Regions from separate parts of the Homo sapiens genome. Here region 2 is linked to region 1. Evidence: fine-mapped expression QTL. Tissue or cell type: whole blood. Region 1 holds a variant in brackets; the other region holds the start of a gene. All regions are shown on one strand. Distances are between the middles of the regions.

The links. PIP is the estimated chance that this variant, and not a neighbour inherited with it, causes the effect.
Region 2: it holds the start of CFL1, and the variant in region 1 is fine-mapped to the expression of CFL1 in whole blood (TOPMed, PIP above 0.99).

Annotation. Positions count from the first base shown.
Region 1 is chr11:65,825,434-65,833,690 of GRCh38, forward strand. It overlaps LOC124902693, which reads right to left. Exons shown (of 7, transcript XM_047427980.1): 1 at 5,865-8,257; 2 at 843-1,176. The coding sequence starts at 8,078. The coding sequence ends at 6,462. Among named protein-coding and RNA genes, the nearest start is that of SNX32, 4.4 kb to the right of the region's middle. RefSeq lists silencers at 2,425-2,719, 8,082-8,211. The variant C/T (reference allele first, on the strand shown) is at 3,377.
Region 2 is chr11:65,853,187-65,861,186 of GRCh38, forward strand. It overlaps CFL1 (cofilin 1), which reads right to left and starts at 4,994. Exons shown (of 4, transcript NM_005507.3): 1 at 4,911-4,994; 2 at 2,749-3,056; 3 at 2,468-2,544; 4 at 1,487-2,262. The coding sequence starts at 4,913. The coding sequence ends at 2,150. It overlaps SNX32 (sorting nexin 32), which reads left to right. Exons shown (of 13, transcript NM_152760.3): 13 at 96-515. The coding sequence ends at 149. It overlaps MUS81 (MUS81 structure-specific endonuclease subunit), which reads left to right and starts at 7,247. Exons shown (of 16, transcript NM_025128.5): 1 at 7,247-7,702; 2 at 7,787-7,916. The coding sequence starts at 7,568. RefSeq lists silencers at 4,560-4,959, 6,370-6,449, 7,500-7,659, 7,830-7,919 and enhancers at 4,566-5,106, 5,040-5,089, 5,480-5,549, 6,110-6,199, 6,720-6,769 and 2 more.

The DNA of each region.
Region 1 (8,257 bases):
TGACCTCCAGTGATCTGCCCGCCTCAGCCTCCCAAAGTGCTAGGATTACAGGCATGAGCCACGGCACCCAACCAAAAGTTAATGTTACTTTAACACATTCTGTTACAAGAAACAAGGCTGGGACTATACAAAGAATAAAATTATAAAAATTTTAAAAATCGTCCATGCTTGGCCGGGCGTGGTGGCTCACGCCTGTAATCCCAACACTTTGGGAGGCCAAGGCAGGCGGATCACAAGGTCAGGAGATCGAGACCATTCTGGCTAACACAGTGAAACCCCATCTCTAATGAAAAATACAAAAAATTAGCTAGGCATGGTGGTGGGCGCCTGTAGTCCCAGCTACTTGGGAGGCTGAGGCAGGAGAATGGCGTGAACCCGGGAGGAGGAGCTTGCAGTGAGCCGAGATTGTGCCACTGCACTCCAGCCTGGGTGGCAGAGCGAGACTCCGTCTCACAAAAAAAAAAAAAAAATCATCTAGGCTTGAGCCCAGGAGTTTGAGACCAGCTTGGGCAACATAGTGAGACCCCCATCTCTGTTTTATATATATATATATATATATATATATATATATATATATATATATATATATATATATATACACACACACACACACACACACACACACACACACACACACACACACACGATATATATATATTTAAAATATATATATGTTATATACATATATAAATGTATACATATACATATAATTATACATACATATATGTATATATACTTAAATATACATATATATATATATATATATATATATATATATAAAAATCACTCAGGAGCCCTGGAATGTGTGTGTTTTGGTTAATTTTAGTAGAAAAGGGTATTACCTATGCAAAGCTCTAGCTACCTAGATAACTGAAAATATCTGCACTTATGAGGTAGTTGGCATTTGTCACGGTATCTTGGTCTTCATTTTTCTTTCTGTGGCCCTGGTGAAATGCGTCTGATATCTCAGGAGAAAATGCAATCCAAAGAACGATTGTGGTTGTCTGGTTCATCAGTTGTATACTGTGCGGTGCAATCTGAGAGATTTTCACAAAGCCGAAAACTGCCCAAGTATGACCTCGTGCCTGTGTAGGCCTCTTATAAAAGAGACAATTCCCCAACTCTCAGAGAGTTTCCAGAGGAGGCTAGGAGTGATGATCTCGGGATGGCAGAGATCTAGGAAAGAAAATAAACGTCATTGTTTTTTGACATTTATATATATATACACACACAATTATTATTATTATTTTTGGAGACAGAGTCTCACTCTGTCACTAAGGTTGGAGTGCAGTGGCGCGATCTCAGCTCACTGCAACCTCCACCTCCAGGATTCAAGTGATTCTTGTGCCTCAGCCTCCCAAGTAGCTGGGATTACAGGCGTGAGCCACCACATCTGGCTAATTTTTGTATTTTTAGTAGAGACGGGGTTTCACCATGTTGGCCAGGCTGGTCTTAAACTCTTGACCTCAGGTGATCCGCCCGCCTCGGCCTCCCAAAGTGCTGAGAGTACAGGTGTGAGCTACCGCACCCCACCAACATTTATATTCTTAAATACTTGCCACTGAAGCGCTCATCCAGTAAGTATGCGCCGAATGAATGGAGGGGTTGCTGCACAGCCTCATTCCCTACCCCCATTCAGGATCCCAGGCCTTGCTTTGGCAGGTGAGGAAGCCAAGGTTCAGGGCTTGTCTGGTAGGAATAGAGGAGGCCATTCAGCAGACAGAGCGGTTTCCAGCTCAGCTCTGGAGTCAGGCTGCCTGGACTCTGTGCCTGGCTCTGGCAGTGTCTACTGGGTAGAGTCGATAGAGTAATAGTTCCTATCTCAAAGAGCTATTGGACTAAATTATAGAGAACATGTAAAGTGCTTAGCATGGTGCTGATTAAATTACCCTGATTATTACAAGAATTCAGTAAATGTTAGCTATTATAATCATTTGTCAAGAAGATCCTACCATGAGGCTTGAGCCATCTATAGCTTATCTTTACAACTCTGCCCACTCCCTATTAATATCTCCACTTTATTGTCTAACAATGGGATCAGAGTTCCTAGAAAATGAAAGAGCAAGCTATCAGCTTCTGCCCAATAAAGAAGGAGAAATAGCGGAGCTGGGGAGAAGCAAACAGATCTCATACACAGAACGCCTGGTTGTGCAACTGGCTCAGCTTAGAAATAGATCTGGACTCTCAATGGCCATGCAGAAAGGAAGAAAACAAAGGCGCACATCTTCAGGCTGCTGAGGGAAACTCTATATCCAGAAAAACCTCAAGTACAAGTATGGAACAAAGACAGTTTCAGGCTTTTGAGGTTTCAAAAAATGTGACATTCTAAGAAACAGGGTAAATTATTATAGCAATTTCTCAATAGATATTAAATAGTACTGAGACTGATGAAGTCACTGAATATGATGGGTTGATTTATTCTGCAGACACATGCTGAGTGCTACTATGGGCTGGTTACACACTGGACTAGAGAGGGTAACCAGACTGACACATATTGCTGCCCTCATAGAGCTCATTTACATCCTAGTGAGGACAGATAGATGTAAACAGCTACAGTAGGAAAGTTCTGAGTCAGAAGGTGATGAACGTGATGGAGAAAGAGAAGCCAGGGCCTCTAGCCTCAACTTCCAGGAACTGGAACTACAGAACTACAGGAACTATAGCAGACAGATGAACGAACTACGGCTGGGCGTGGTGGCTCATGCCTGTAATCCCAGCACTTTGGGAGGCTGAGGCGGGCACATCACAAGGTCAGGAGTTCGAGACCAGCCTGGCCAACATGGAGAAACCTCGTCTCTACTAATAAATATAAAAATTAGCCGGGGATGGTGGCGGGCGCCTGTAGTCCCAGCTACTGGGGAGGCTGAGGCAGGAGAATGGCATGAACCCAGAAGGTGGAGCTTGCAGTGAGCCGAGATCGCGCCACTGCACTCCAGCCTGGGCAACAGTGTGAGACTCTGTCTCAAAAAAAATAATAATAATTACCAGCAACTGATGGCTTAAAACAATAGAGGTTTATTCTCTCACAGCTCTAGAGGTCAGATGCTAAAACCAAGGTGTTGGCGGAGGCCACACTCTCTACAGAGACTCTGGGGAAGAATCCATTCTGTGCCTCTTCCAACTTCAGGCGACCATCGGCACTCCTTGACTCGTAGCTGCATAACTCCAGCCTGTGCCTGGGAGATCACACTGCCTCCTCCTCTCTGTGTGTCTGTTCTCCTTCTCTTCCTCTCTCTTACAAGGACACTTGTAATGGCATTTACGACCCACCTCTAAAGTGGGCCCTTCTCTCAAGATCTTTAACTTAATTACATCTTTTGCCATATTAAGGTAATATTCACAGGTTCCTGGGATTAGGAAGTGAATATATCTTTGG[C/T]GGACCACTTTTGTGCCTACCTTAAGGAGCAAGAAAAATGGGACAGTACTAGAGGGAAATGTAGGGTACAGAGAAGTTTTTTGTTTTTGTTTTTTAAGATGGGAAAAGTTGGCGGGGTGCAGTGGCTCATGTCGGTAATCTCAGCACTTTCGGGTAGAGGCAGGAGGATCGCTTGAGCCCAGAAGTTCAAGACCTGCCTGGGCAACATAGAGAGACCTCATCTCTACTTAAAAAAAAAAAAAAACTAGTCTCTTGTGGTGGTGTACACCTGTAGTCCCAGCTACTTGGGAGGCTGAGGAGATTGCTTCAGCCTAGAAGGTTGAGGCTGCAGTGAGCCATGATCATGCCACTGCACTCCAGCCTGAGTGACAGAGTGAGACCCTATTTCAAAAACAACAACAATGACAAAAAAAAAAAAAGTTTGGAGATGGAGTGGTAACCAACTTGGCAGAGTGGAGGCAGCTGGCACTTAAGTGCTTAAAGATAATAGAAACGAAAAGTTAACAGTTCACTCTACTTATCCCCAAAAAAGTTCAGGACATGGAGGGACCAGATAGCTCAGATGGAAGGAAAAAGGCATAGAGCTGAGAACAGAGAAATTATTTAGGAGTCTGTATATAAAGCAGTTAAGCTTACAAATCCCCTCCCCAACCTTTTTTAGCTGGGCACCAACTCCCATAGCACAGCAGAGGGTTTACTCTTTGGGGAAACTGAATCTGAGAAGCACCAACTCAGGGACACCAGGCACAGCTGAAGGTGGAGTGAGCACTGAGCTGAAAACAAGGGACTGGGTAAAAACATATGTACCAAGCGGTGGCTCCACAACCGTCTCCCCTGACCCTGCTGCTGTAACCTCTATAGCAGGGGCCATGCAGATATCCCCCAGACAGATTGGAGAATTCTCTGTAGAAACCAGACGGTCCCTTCAGTGAGATTTACAGATTCTGATATTTGGGTGTACCCAGTAAAATATCCTGCTTGCTTCAGTCGCCACAGAGTGAAGCCCATAGATCAACAAGCCCCAAATTGTGCTTCCAATTGCCTCTGCTTAATGCCTCATTCTTAAATATGGACAGCCGAAGATCAAACATTTGAGGAAAACTTCCAACAATACACACACAAAAAAAATGGAGCGGGGGGAAGCAGGGGAGGGGAACTCAGGGGAAACAATAAGAAAAGCAGAAGAAAACTTAAAAACTGGAAAAATCCTTGGAGAGCTAAGAGAACAGACTCATGAAACAAGAACAGAAATACTATATATAAAAAAAGAAGCACGGCCGGGCTCGGTGGCTCACGCCTGTAATCCCAGCACTTTGGGAGGCCAAGATGGGTGGATCACCTGAGGTCAGGAGTTCAAAACCAGCCTGACCAACATGGTGGAACCCCGTTTCTACTAAAAATACAAAAAATTAGCCGGGTGTGGTGATGCATTCCTGTAATCCCAGCTCATGCAGTGAGCACAGGAGGCTAAGTCAGGAGAATTGCTTGAACCGGGGAGGCGGAGGTTGCAGTGAGCCAAGATCACGCCATTACACTCCAGCCTGGGTGACAGAGCAAGACTCCAGACTCCATCTCAAAAAAAAAAAAAAAAGCAATCAATGAACAAGAGAGTTAAAATGTAAAATTTCAATAAGAAAGAAAGATACAGTTAATAAAGTTGAAAGTGGATCTCATGAAAATAGAGATGAGATTGGTGGTTACTGGAGGCCAGGAAGGGTGGAGGAAATAAAGACATGTTAATGAGTAGAAATGTACAGTTAGATGGAAGAAATGGGACCCAGTGTTCTATAGATCAGTAGGGTGACTGTAGTTAACAATAATCTATTGTACATTTCAAAATCACTAGAAGAGAATGATTCGAATGTTCCTGGCATAAAGAAAAGATAAATATTTAAGATGATGGATATCCCAATTGCCCTGATTTGATCTTTACACATTATATGAATGTATCAAAATATTACAGGTACCCCCAAAATACGTACATCTACTATACATCAATTGTTTTAAAGTTAATGAAATTGCCCAGAGAATACAATAAAAAGAGACGGGCAAAAGGAGAAAAAAAGATAACAGCTATAATTCAAGGTCTAACATCCTCTAGTAAGGCCAGAGAAAATGGGGTGAGGATACAGGTTGAGTTAGGGAGTGGTAGCAAACAGGTAATTTACATAGAAAAAAACACTATCTATAGAATTAAAAGAAAAGAACAAAAAGACTTATAAATAGCAATACTTGGAAGTTAGAAGATAGTGAGGGAATTAGCCAGGCATGGTGGCACATGTCTGTAATCCCAGCTACTTGGGAGGCTGAGACAGGAGAATCGCTTGAGCCTGGGAGGCAGAGGTTGCAGTGAGCCGAGATTGCGCCACTGCACACTCCAACCTGGGCAACAGAGCAAGACTGTCTCAAAAAAAAAAAAGAAAAAAGAAAAAGAAAGAAAGAAAGAAAGAAAAGAAAAGAAAAGAAAAGGAAATAATGAAGGACATACCAACAAACACAATCACCATTATGGCACGTGGCTTCTTATGTTTTTTCTCACTTCTTTCTTATCTCCTCTCTTGCTTTTGTCACTTGGGAGCCCTTCATTCTTCAGGCTCCTCTTTCAGAAATTTTGCCCACTTCAGTCTGCACCTTCTTCCACAACTCTCAAAATCTACCCTTTATCCTGCTGCAATTCTCCATCTCATAGACCCCATTTAGTGTCAGACTAAATCCTTCTAGCCCATCCTCCATCCTTTTCTCAAACATTTCCCTATGAGCTCCCAGTCACACCTTTTCTCCCAATATCCAAGTGTCCTCTGTCAACACATTACCAAGTCTTCTCTTTCTCCTCCATATGTTCCCACTTCCCTCTGAACCAGAGACTCCTCTTTGCTTCCTTTGATCCTGGCCTCCGCCTTCAGCCCCAGAAGCTCTTTTCCTCACTTCCACTCTCTTTTATTTTAGGCTCAGACTCTCTCCTTTCCTTTCTCAACTTTACCCCTTCAGTGTCAATAATGTTCTGTCTGGCTCTAATTTCTCCTCTGACTTTCAGTACTTCTCCTGTCTGCCTCTTTCCTTCTTTGGTGTCAATCCTTCATCTGCCTCATTCACTGGTACCTTCACCTATAATATCTTTTTTTTCCATAGAAACAGATTCATCAGTGATATCTTTCACTTCACTCAAGATGCCCCCCTCAACTCCCACTCCTTTCTCAGTCCCTTGTAGTTCCTCACTCCCTTTGACACTTTCAAAAGGAATTTCCATCTCATCATGAGTAAATGCCATCACTCTTTCATCGCCAGTAACTTCTACCACTTTTTCAATGTTCTTCTCATTTATGCTCCCCATTCTTGAACCCTCCAATTTCTCCCCGCTGGTCCCTAACTTCTCCTCACTAGATCTCAGCTTCTCCGCACTTGACCCCAGCTTCTCTCCACTCAACCTCAGCTTCTCTCTGCTTGATCTCAGCTTCTCTCCACTGGTTCCCAGCTTCTCTCTGCTTGATCTCAGCTTCTCTCCACTCAACCTCAGCTTCTCATCACTTGTTCCCAGCTTCTCTCCACTCAATCTCAGCTTCTCTCTGCTTGATCTTAGCTTCTCTCCACTCAACCTCAGCTTCTCTCTGCTTGATCTTAGCTTCTCTCCACTCAACCTCAGCTTCTCATCACTGGTTCCCAGCTTCTCTCCACTCAACCTCAGCTTCTCTCTGCTTGATCTCAGCTTCTCTCCACTCAACCTCAGCTTCTCTCCACTCAACCTCAGCTTCTCATCACTGGTTCCCAGCTTCTCTCCACTCAACCTCAGCTTCTCTCTGATTGATCTCAGCATCTCTCCACTCAACCTCAGCTTCTCATCACTGGTTCCCAGCTTCTCTCCACTAGTTCCCAGCTTCTCTCCACTCCATCTCAGCTTCTCTCTACTTGATCTCAAATTCTCTCCACTTGATCTCAGCTTTCTGCCACTGGACCTCAGCTTCACTCCACTGGACCCCTGCTTCTCTCCCCTGCACACCAGCTTCTCACTAGTAGACCTCAGCTTCTCTACACTTGATCTCATCTTGTCTACACTAGACCTCAACCCCTTCTCATCCTGTCCCAGTTTATATCCATTGGATCTCAAGTCCTCTCCACTGGTCCCTACCTTCTCCCCAGCAGACCTCAACCTCTCTTCAAACCCAGACCCCTTCATAGGCCCTGCTGTCATCCCTGCACTCTTAGATTTAGCCTTTATTTCGTGTTTGACCTCTTGCTTTCCCCAAATACCCCTTGGGCTGTCTTTCCCCAAATCTGCTGAAGCTTGTGATGCACTTGCTCCACGGTATAGCAGCTTCACATCCATCCTTTCCTGACTCGGGCCTGACTTCCCTTTCAAGACCGTCTTTTCCACATCTTCCAGTCTCCAGTACTCAGACTCCAGCTTCGGCTTTCGAGTGTTTCTAGTCAGGAGCTCCACTCTCTTCCCAATTACCATGAGCCCGTTCCAAGGTCCCCAGGTTTTCTCTCGCAGCATCGGCACCCCCTTGCAGCCCCGCTCCAGTGGCGACCGTTCGCGGACCCCGGCCTCGCTTGGGGCGCCCTGGCCGCGGGACTTGTGGAGCTCCCTAGTCCTCCTAGGCTGCTTACCCCGCCGCTCCCTCCCGTCCAAGAGCGGAAACCTAAACAGACCCCCCTTCTCCACAGACATTGTCCCCTGCCCTCGCCCCTGGTCCACCACCCACATCCCCACCACTGCTTCCCATTCCCTGTCCCCACCCTGCCACCCTCACCCTCTTCCCCTTCCCCTTCCCCTTCCCCACTGCCTGGTGGGCGCCAAACTGGGCGAGTGCGCACGCGCAGGCCGCACGTGGCCGTTGGAAGGAGGGGCCCGGAACGGCGGCACGGGGTTGTTGTGGGGGTCAG
Region 2 (8,000 bases), 28 kb after region 1:
GGGGTGTGGGGAGCGAGGGAGCATCTAAGGTGCAGAAAGAATGGCAGCCTGACTCAGGGAGCAGGGGACTTCAAGGACCTGTTTCTCCTCTGCAGGCCAGCACCCTGATTCTCCGGAACACCCTTGTTGCCCTAAAGGGGGAGCCTTAGAGTAGCCAGAGCTCAGCCAGACCCTAATCTGGGATCTCCAGTGACCAGGGTATCCCAGACCCCTCTCTCCGGCAAGATGTCTCCTTCCCTAGCAGTGCCACTAGCCACACCCTCACTCTGCCCCACATCCTCTCAGGGAAAGCCCAAACCCCCTATCACCACCACCACAGGTGCCAGGCCCTGCAAGACACAGGGCAGCATGGGCATCATAACTGGCCACAGTCAGCAGAGCCCCAGGGACCCTGACACCTCTCCCCAGGAAGCTGAGGAACAGCCTCTACCCTCACCCATAGCCCTGAAGGAATCATAGCTCACTTGATCCCGGCCTGTTCTCCTTCGCAAATAAAAACCCTGGTTTTGTAGCAAGGAGGCCTGTTGTCCTTACTTCCCTTCCCACAGCTCAAAGGTCCACCAGGCACACTTTCTGCCAAGGCAGTATGATCAGATCCTGGAGACACCAAGGAGGGCACCCCTGCAGCATCCTCAGCCCTCTCTCCAGTGACAGCAGGCTCCCTGTGGGAAGGCGCGACACCCAGAAGCTGGGACCTAGGAACCCCAGAAGTCTTCCAGGTTTGCCCCTACCCCCATAAACCCTAGCACAAAAATGAATCCCAAGTTCTCCACACCTATTTCCTAACCAGAAAAGGGATCTAGCCCTTCCTCCCAGAACCGCTCACAAGTTCCCAGGAGTTATGGAGCCAACTGTAACACCAGGAGGACTCTTCCTCAGTTCAGTTGATAAGGGAAATATAGATGCCACATTACCACTCCCAGTTCACCTCACCCTAGGGCCAGATTTCTTGTATGTCTTTGCCTGCTGGGCAGGAAAAAGCCCAAAGTACAGGCTGGAAACAGCCCTTGACAATGCTGGCAAAAGGCTCAGGGTACCGGCAACACCCTTTTGGTTAAACACAGGGAGGCAGTGCTCAAGACACCGGGGTCTGAAGTCCCGGGCTCCACCTGGCTGGCCCCACCCTGAATGCACTCCAGCCACATCTAGAGGAGGTCAAAGGCTCAACTTGGCCTGACTCACAGCAGCCACTGAACCTGACCCTCATAAACTTGAGTCAGCCATCCAGGGAAGACAGCAGACCAAACAGAACCTTTGAGCTACCTCTGACTTGCCTATCAGCCCACACCTAGAAAGGGACAGAACAGAATATCAGATGGACCTCACTGTCCATCCAGGCAAGGCTACAGAGCACCCAGTTCAGGCATAAATCACTTCCGCTGGAAGACCCCTGTAGCCAGCACCCACTCCTTAAACAGCCAGTCCAGTGTCAATCACAGCACCAACAGAATAATGGTGACCATCAGAAAGGCGTCTCAGCCAGTCATTGGAGCCAGATAAGGGTGTGCAGGGGCTGGTTGGGTGTGGAGTACAGAGGAGAGAGATAGCACCATTATCCCAGTGCACCCCCAATCCTGAAGTCTCCTGTGTCCCAACCTTGAAAAACACATCCCATTAATGAGCCTTTTTATTATTGTCTTTTTTTTTTTTAATCGAAGGTCCCTTACTGGTCCTGCTTCCATGAGTAGCCGTGACCAGGGGAAAAGGGAGAGGAACCAGCCGGCACAGGGAGGGGTCATCTCCACAACATTCCATTTATACACAGAACTAAACAGACAAGCACAGAGTCACTATTGCGGTTAGAAGTTGGCAGCATGGGAAGGGGGAGGACCAGGTGGGGAATGGGGATGTTGTTAAAAAAAATACAGGCTCCCCCACAACTGGGGTGCCTGGGGGGAACTTGGTCTGCTTCAGCCCAAGAGGAATCAAAAGATCAAAAGCAGTTTGGGAAGGCCAGAACCGTCAAGGGATGGAGGGAGAAGGAAAATCCAGGGGGTGGGGGGTCTGTTTGGCAACTGGGGTGAAGGGATTGCCCTCCCCCTGCTGGGATCCCCCCAGCCCCTCCGGTCTGGCAGGAAGGGGGCAGCCTGCAACCCCCAAGGGCAGGTGTGGGGCTGCCAGATGCTCCAGGCAGGGGGCCAGAAGGGGCTCACAAAGGCTTGCCCTCCAGGGAGATGACGGCACTGCCCCCCAGCTTCTCTGCCAGGGTGCAGCGGTCCTTGACCTCCTCGTAGCAGTTTGCTTGCAATTCATGCTTGATCCCTATAAAGAAGAAAGGGGAGCATCTGTGAGCAGGAAGCACTGGGGTGGGGGTAGTTTCTGTGGCTGGGAAGGAGCCAATCAAAGCAGATGGAAGGAACAAGCAGGCAGCGAAGACAAGGGGGCAGACCCCCTCTGCGTGCCATTCACCCTGCCCTGCAGCCAAGGCCAGAGCAGAAGGGCACTCAGCACCAATGCTGGCCCTTACCTGTCAGCTTCTTCTTGATGGCGTCCTTGGAGCTGGCATAAATCATTTTGCTCTTAAGGGGCGCAGACTCGGGGGCCCTGGACAGAAACACGCGTCAGGCAACTCCCAGCAACAGCAAAGCCACAGGTGACTTTGAGAAACCCTTGGGCTGGCAGTGAGGAGTCTTTTGTTACAACCCCCTCCCCCTCCAAACCCACACATCTGGGTTGACCAGGAGCCACAGAAGTTCCCATCATGAGAAAGGGGGCAGGTGACAGGAAGAAGTGCCAGAATGAGCTCACCAGAAGATAAACACCAGATCCTCCTTCTTGCTCTCCTTGGTCTCATAGGTTGCATCATAGAGGGCATAGCGGCAGTCCTTATCTGGCAGCATCTTGACAAAGGTGGCGTAGGGGTCGTCGACAGTCTGGCCCACATCGCCCACCAGGATCTCCTTGCCCTCCTCCAGGATGATGTTCTTCTTGTCCTCACTCAGGCAGAAGAGCACCGCCTTCTTGCGCTTCTTCACCTCCTCTGGCGTTGAAGACTTACGCACCTTCATGTCGTTGAACACCTTGATGACACCATCAGAGACAGCCACACCGGAGGCCTAGGAGACATGCCACGTATACGTCAAGAAAAGGATTCTAGGGAACTGCCCCTTGTTTTTTCAGAAGATCTCAGTCCACGTCCCGAGTGGTCACTAGTGCCCTTCCCAAGGCAAGTCACTAGTTTTCCCACCCAAGTCACTGTCAAAGAACCAGATGGGACACAACCTCAGAATGGCAGCCATGGCCTCTGATCACCTAGTTCAACAACCCCTTCCCTCATTTTACAGGATAGAAATGCAAAACTCGTGAAAAGCAGAACCTTGACCAAAATGTGAACCCAGAATTAAAAGATCCACCGGCTACTGACTCATTTGCTACTCACAGTACTTGCTCTCAGCCTTTGGATAAAACTGGTGATTTAGAACTTCGGATATGGAGGACCCAAACACCTGAGCCAAGACTCCTCTTCAGAAAGAGCCAAGACCCCACAATGCTAGATGGGACCCCAAGGACACCGAACAGTTACAACAAACCCACCAGAACTGCTTAATACAGTTACTACACAAACGACCCCTGTTCCCAGCTAGGCTCTTTCCCAACCAAGACAAGAATTGCAACCCCCATTAAGGACCCTGCCCGACAACTCCCTTCTTCCGGGAATGGTGCTAGGCCCCAGAAGTCGCTGATAAAAATTAACATGCCAAACTCAAGTGCCCAGAGGCCTCGAGGTCTTTAAACTCTTCCTACTCTGCGTCGTGCTTCGGGGTGCCCGAGCCAGGAGAGGGAGGGGCAATCCAAGGTAAATCTGGTCCCCCAAACTCCCCGGAACTGCAGAAGAAGCCGGCCACGTGACTCGGCCGCATCCGGAGTGGGCGGGGACAGGAGATCGGCTGGGCCCGGCCCCCTCACCAATGCAGAAACGCGTATCCGAGAGGCAGCAGCATCTCCAGGTCCCTAACCCTGTGGAATCGCCCTAAAACAACGGGTGTATCAGACCCATCTCCTGCAGGCAGGAGCCTGGGCAAGCTACATAACCTTCGGTTTTCTCAGCCCTCGGGCCGTATACAGGGGGCGGGGTGGTTTCCGGGCGGTGCCCGCCTGGGTCACTTCCCTAAACTCGGCTCCACCCTCACTCAGGCCCATCCGGGAAGGCCTCGCTGGCCCAGGGCTTCGGCACCGGCGGCCGGGCCTGAGCGTGCGCGCACGCGCCGACAGACAGCGCCGTTCCAGCCCTCGCCCGATGCACGGGTGAGAACGCAGCTCGTTAGATGCGCTCCCGAACGGGCCGCGGTCTCTGCGATGCCCCCTCCAAGCCTTGCGGTGCAAGGCCTTAATCGCAGGCACCCACGCCCCAACCGGGACCCCGTCTTCCCAGCATCACCCCTCGCCGCGCCAGCACCCGCCCCTCCCGGGCGCAGGCATCCCTGCCACCTGCTCCCGAGACGGACCCGGCTGCCGAGGGAGGGTGACGCGCAGACAGGAACAGCCTTGGGTGGGGCGCGCGCGCCGAGACCTCTCGCGCGCTTTTTCCTCGCCGCCCCCGGGCCGGGTTTGGACGCCGCATGCTCCAGTCGAGAGCGCGCCCCTAAGAAGAAAGGCGCGACGCCGGCCGTTCCGCGAGGGGCGCCCCAGCGCGCGCCCCGAACCCCTCCCCCCGCGGCCGGTGTCCGCGCGGGCGCACCAGCGGGTGGGGGAGGGGAGCCCAGGCGGAGCGCGAGCGACGTCCAGACCGGCCCTCCCCGGCGCCCACGGGCGCGCACGCGCATTCCGGCACCGCCCGCCCCTTCGTGCGAGACCCTCATCCCGCCCGGGGCGCTGGGGGAGGGGGTGCGGACGTCGCTCCCCAGTCGCTTCCCGCGCGCAGGCGACCGACCCGCAGCCGCCTCCCTCAGGCGCCGTGGCCTGCCGCTCACCATGTTTCCGGAAACGAAAAGGAGAGGGCACCGAGAGCCGCAGAAGACGAGAGCGCTGCAGCCGCTGCCGGGACCCGACTGAACGCGGCCTCTCCCGGCCCCTTCCGTTTAGTAGGAGCCGCACAATGAGGGGTGGGGCGGGCTTCCGGCGCTCCCACCGCGAGCCGACGGGAAATGGAGTCCGCTGGCCCTGCGCCGCCGCCTCGCTCGCTGGGTAACGGAGTCTTCCCGCCGGCCGGCTCCGAGCTGCAGTGCATGTAGGGAAATGTAGGCCCAGGTCCTGGGCGGCACCGCAGCGCGCAGCGCGAGCCCATTGGTCCAATTTCCCAGGAACCGCTCTGAGCCCGGCGAGGCGGCGCTCAGTAAAATGACCCGAAAACGATCCCCGACTAAGCGGCTCTTTATCCCACAGCAAAACGGCTTTCTTAAGACCCATCTGGTATTATCTGGATCCCTTGGCCTGAAATTTTTGAGTGAGGTTAGGGTTTTGCATTTCTGAATCGAAGCAACTATTGATTAGCCTGGAATCCCGACCTAAAGCAAAGGAAATCACAAGTATGAAGGCGTCGTCAGTCGGATAAACACTAGTACTCTGCATGTGTAAAGCCACTCTCGTCTCCTGAAAAAAGGCCATGTCCAACGTCAGTAAAACAAGAATAGGAGGAAAAGGCACAGGGGAAAGGTACAAGGAAATCTCTGAGAGCTTTGTTCTTGTTTAAAGATGTTTGGCAAAGTCATGAGGCGTTAAAGGGTAAAGACGAGGGTTTGTGCATTCAATTCAAGGCTTCTTTACATGCCTTTACGTGCCAATGAGAAGAAATAGATATTAAACCAGACTTGAACCCAGCTCTCGAGTTGATAGCCAGGTACATGGTTATTCTAACATCCGCAAAACTGAGACAAGTTCTGTGGTAGTATATGCCTTAAAAAAAAAAAGAAACGAGCGGGGGACTCCGGGATGATTTTGTTGTTCTAGAACAGTGACCACAGCCTCACACTCTGCAGGAAAAGACTGGGTCGCAAACAAGTCAGAGGCAAACCCAGAAAGGGAACTGGGGGCCCTAATCCTATAAACGGAATTAAGGGTGTAAACGGAGAGCGATGCCTGGGAGTGGGGTACCTTGCAGAGCATACCGGGGGTTGTAGTCGGGGACATTCCACAGCACCGCCCCCGCCCGGACTCCCGGCGCTCCAGGTGGAGACAGCAGCTTGACCCCGCCTCCCGCGAGCGACCCTACATGAATATGAGGCTAGCGCCCCCTTTTCTGAGCCTTAGAGTTTCCAAGAGCAACGGGGAGAGAGAGGGGGGCTTCGCAGTTACCCTGGAGACGCGCTCTCGCCCGCCCCCAGCCGCGGGATGCCCTAGATGTCCTTATTAGGACAAGAGACTCGAGGGGGCGGGGCCAGCCCGACAGCCGGCTTGAGGCTCCTTATAAGGCCGCGGCGGGCGGGAGGCGGGAGCCGGAGCCCATTGGTCCAATTTAGCTTGGCTGGGGCTACTGCGCCGTGGGCTAGGCACAGTCCTGAGGGGCGGGACTGGAGCTCTGGCGCCCACCTCTCCCTTCCTCGCAGGCTGGAGACCTGCGTGTTGCGACTTCCGGCATAGCAGCTAGAGGCCGGGTGCTGCTTCAAACCCTGGCGGGTCGCCTGTGTCCAACTCAGCTATACGTGTCTTTCAGGCTTCTCAGGTTGAAGCCCTTTGTAGGGTTTCCATCTTCAACCTCCCTGAGGGTCTCCCACTTCCGATTAGCCACAAAAATGACGAAGTGTTCTCCCCTCTACCTGTGTCTGGGCTTCTTAACCCGCAGCCTGCTCCTCCGCTCCCAAACCCAACCGCGTGCCCATCTCAGGCCTCCCCAACTGCCAGGATGCCCAAGCACCTCTTACTTACAGTCCTCCTTCCTCTAGGCCTCTGACCCCCGACATTCCGAGTTCTATTTTGGGCCTTCTCGGCACGTCCCCGACTTCCTCTCCACCACACACTCTTTGCCCTGTATCCCGGGGATGAGGATCACCATTTCCTCCAAGGGTCCTGCAGCTCCTCCTGCCTTACCTTTGTGTCCTCATCCCCGGCACCCATTTCTGGGTGTCCCTCCCACCAATACGTTTGCACCCGTTTGTCTCCTAGCCCCCGCCTCTCCTGGACTCTTTTCAAGACCAGTCTCCATCTCCAGCCTCCTTCAAGCTTGAGGCTGAAGCTGACAATCTTAAGAGACCTTAGAGCCGCCAAGCTCAGGTTAGTCCGTTAAGCGCCGCCCAGCCAGTCCTCCCCGTCACAGGGGGCGCTGTCCGCCTTCCTCTCGCCTACACAAAGACCCCGCTCTCGAATCTGGGGTGACAGGAAGGAGCCGGTCCAGGCTCCGGGGGCTGGGAAAGGGCGCGTCTCAAAGGCTGGCTGGAGTGGAGCCAAGGGAAAAGATCGTTAGAGACAGCGCCCCTGACCAACCACTTAGAGCAGCGCAGGGGTGGGAGGGCGGCCGCAGGCTCTCCTCTCGTTAGTGCCCCCTGTGTTTGGGGCCCCGTGATCTCAACGGTCCTGCCCTCGGTCTCCCTCTTCCCCCGCCCCGCCCTGGGCCAGGTGTTCGAATCCCGACTCCAGAACTGGCGGCGTCCCAGTCCCGCGGGCGTGGAGCGCCGGAGGACCCGCCCTCGGGCTCATGGCGGCCCCGGTCCGCCTGGGCCGGAAGCGCCCGCTGCCTGCCTGTCCCAACCCGCTCTTCGTTCGCTGGCTGACCGAGTGGCGGGACGAGGCGACCCGCAGCAGGCGCCGCACGCGCTTCGTATTTCAGAAGGTGGGTCCTGGCGTGGCCCGATGGGAAAAGCTGCTGGCCAGGTCAGGCCTGCCCTGACCAGGTACCCTACCCCTGCCCGGCCAGGCGCTGCGTTCCCTCCGACGGTACCCACTGCCGCTGCGCAGCGGGAAGGAAGCTAAGATCCTACAGCACTTCGGAGACGGGCTCTGCCGGATGCTGGACGAGCGGCTGCAGCGGCACCGAACATCGGGCGGTGAGCGCCTCGGAAAGGGGTCGGTGATCCCCCACCTCCCCCAGGTGGAGCCTCCGTACTCTCCTGGGAGCCCTTGGCTTTTAA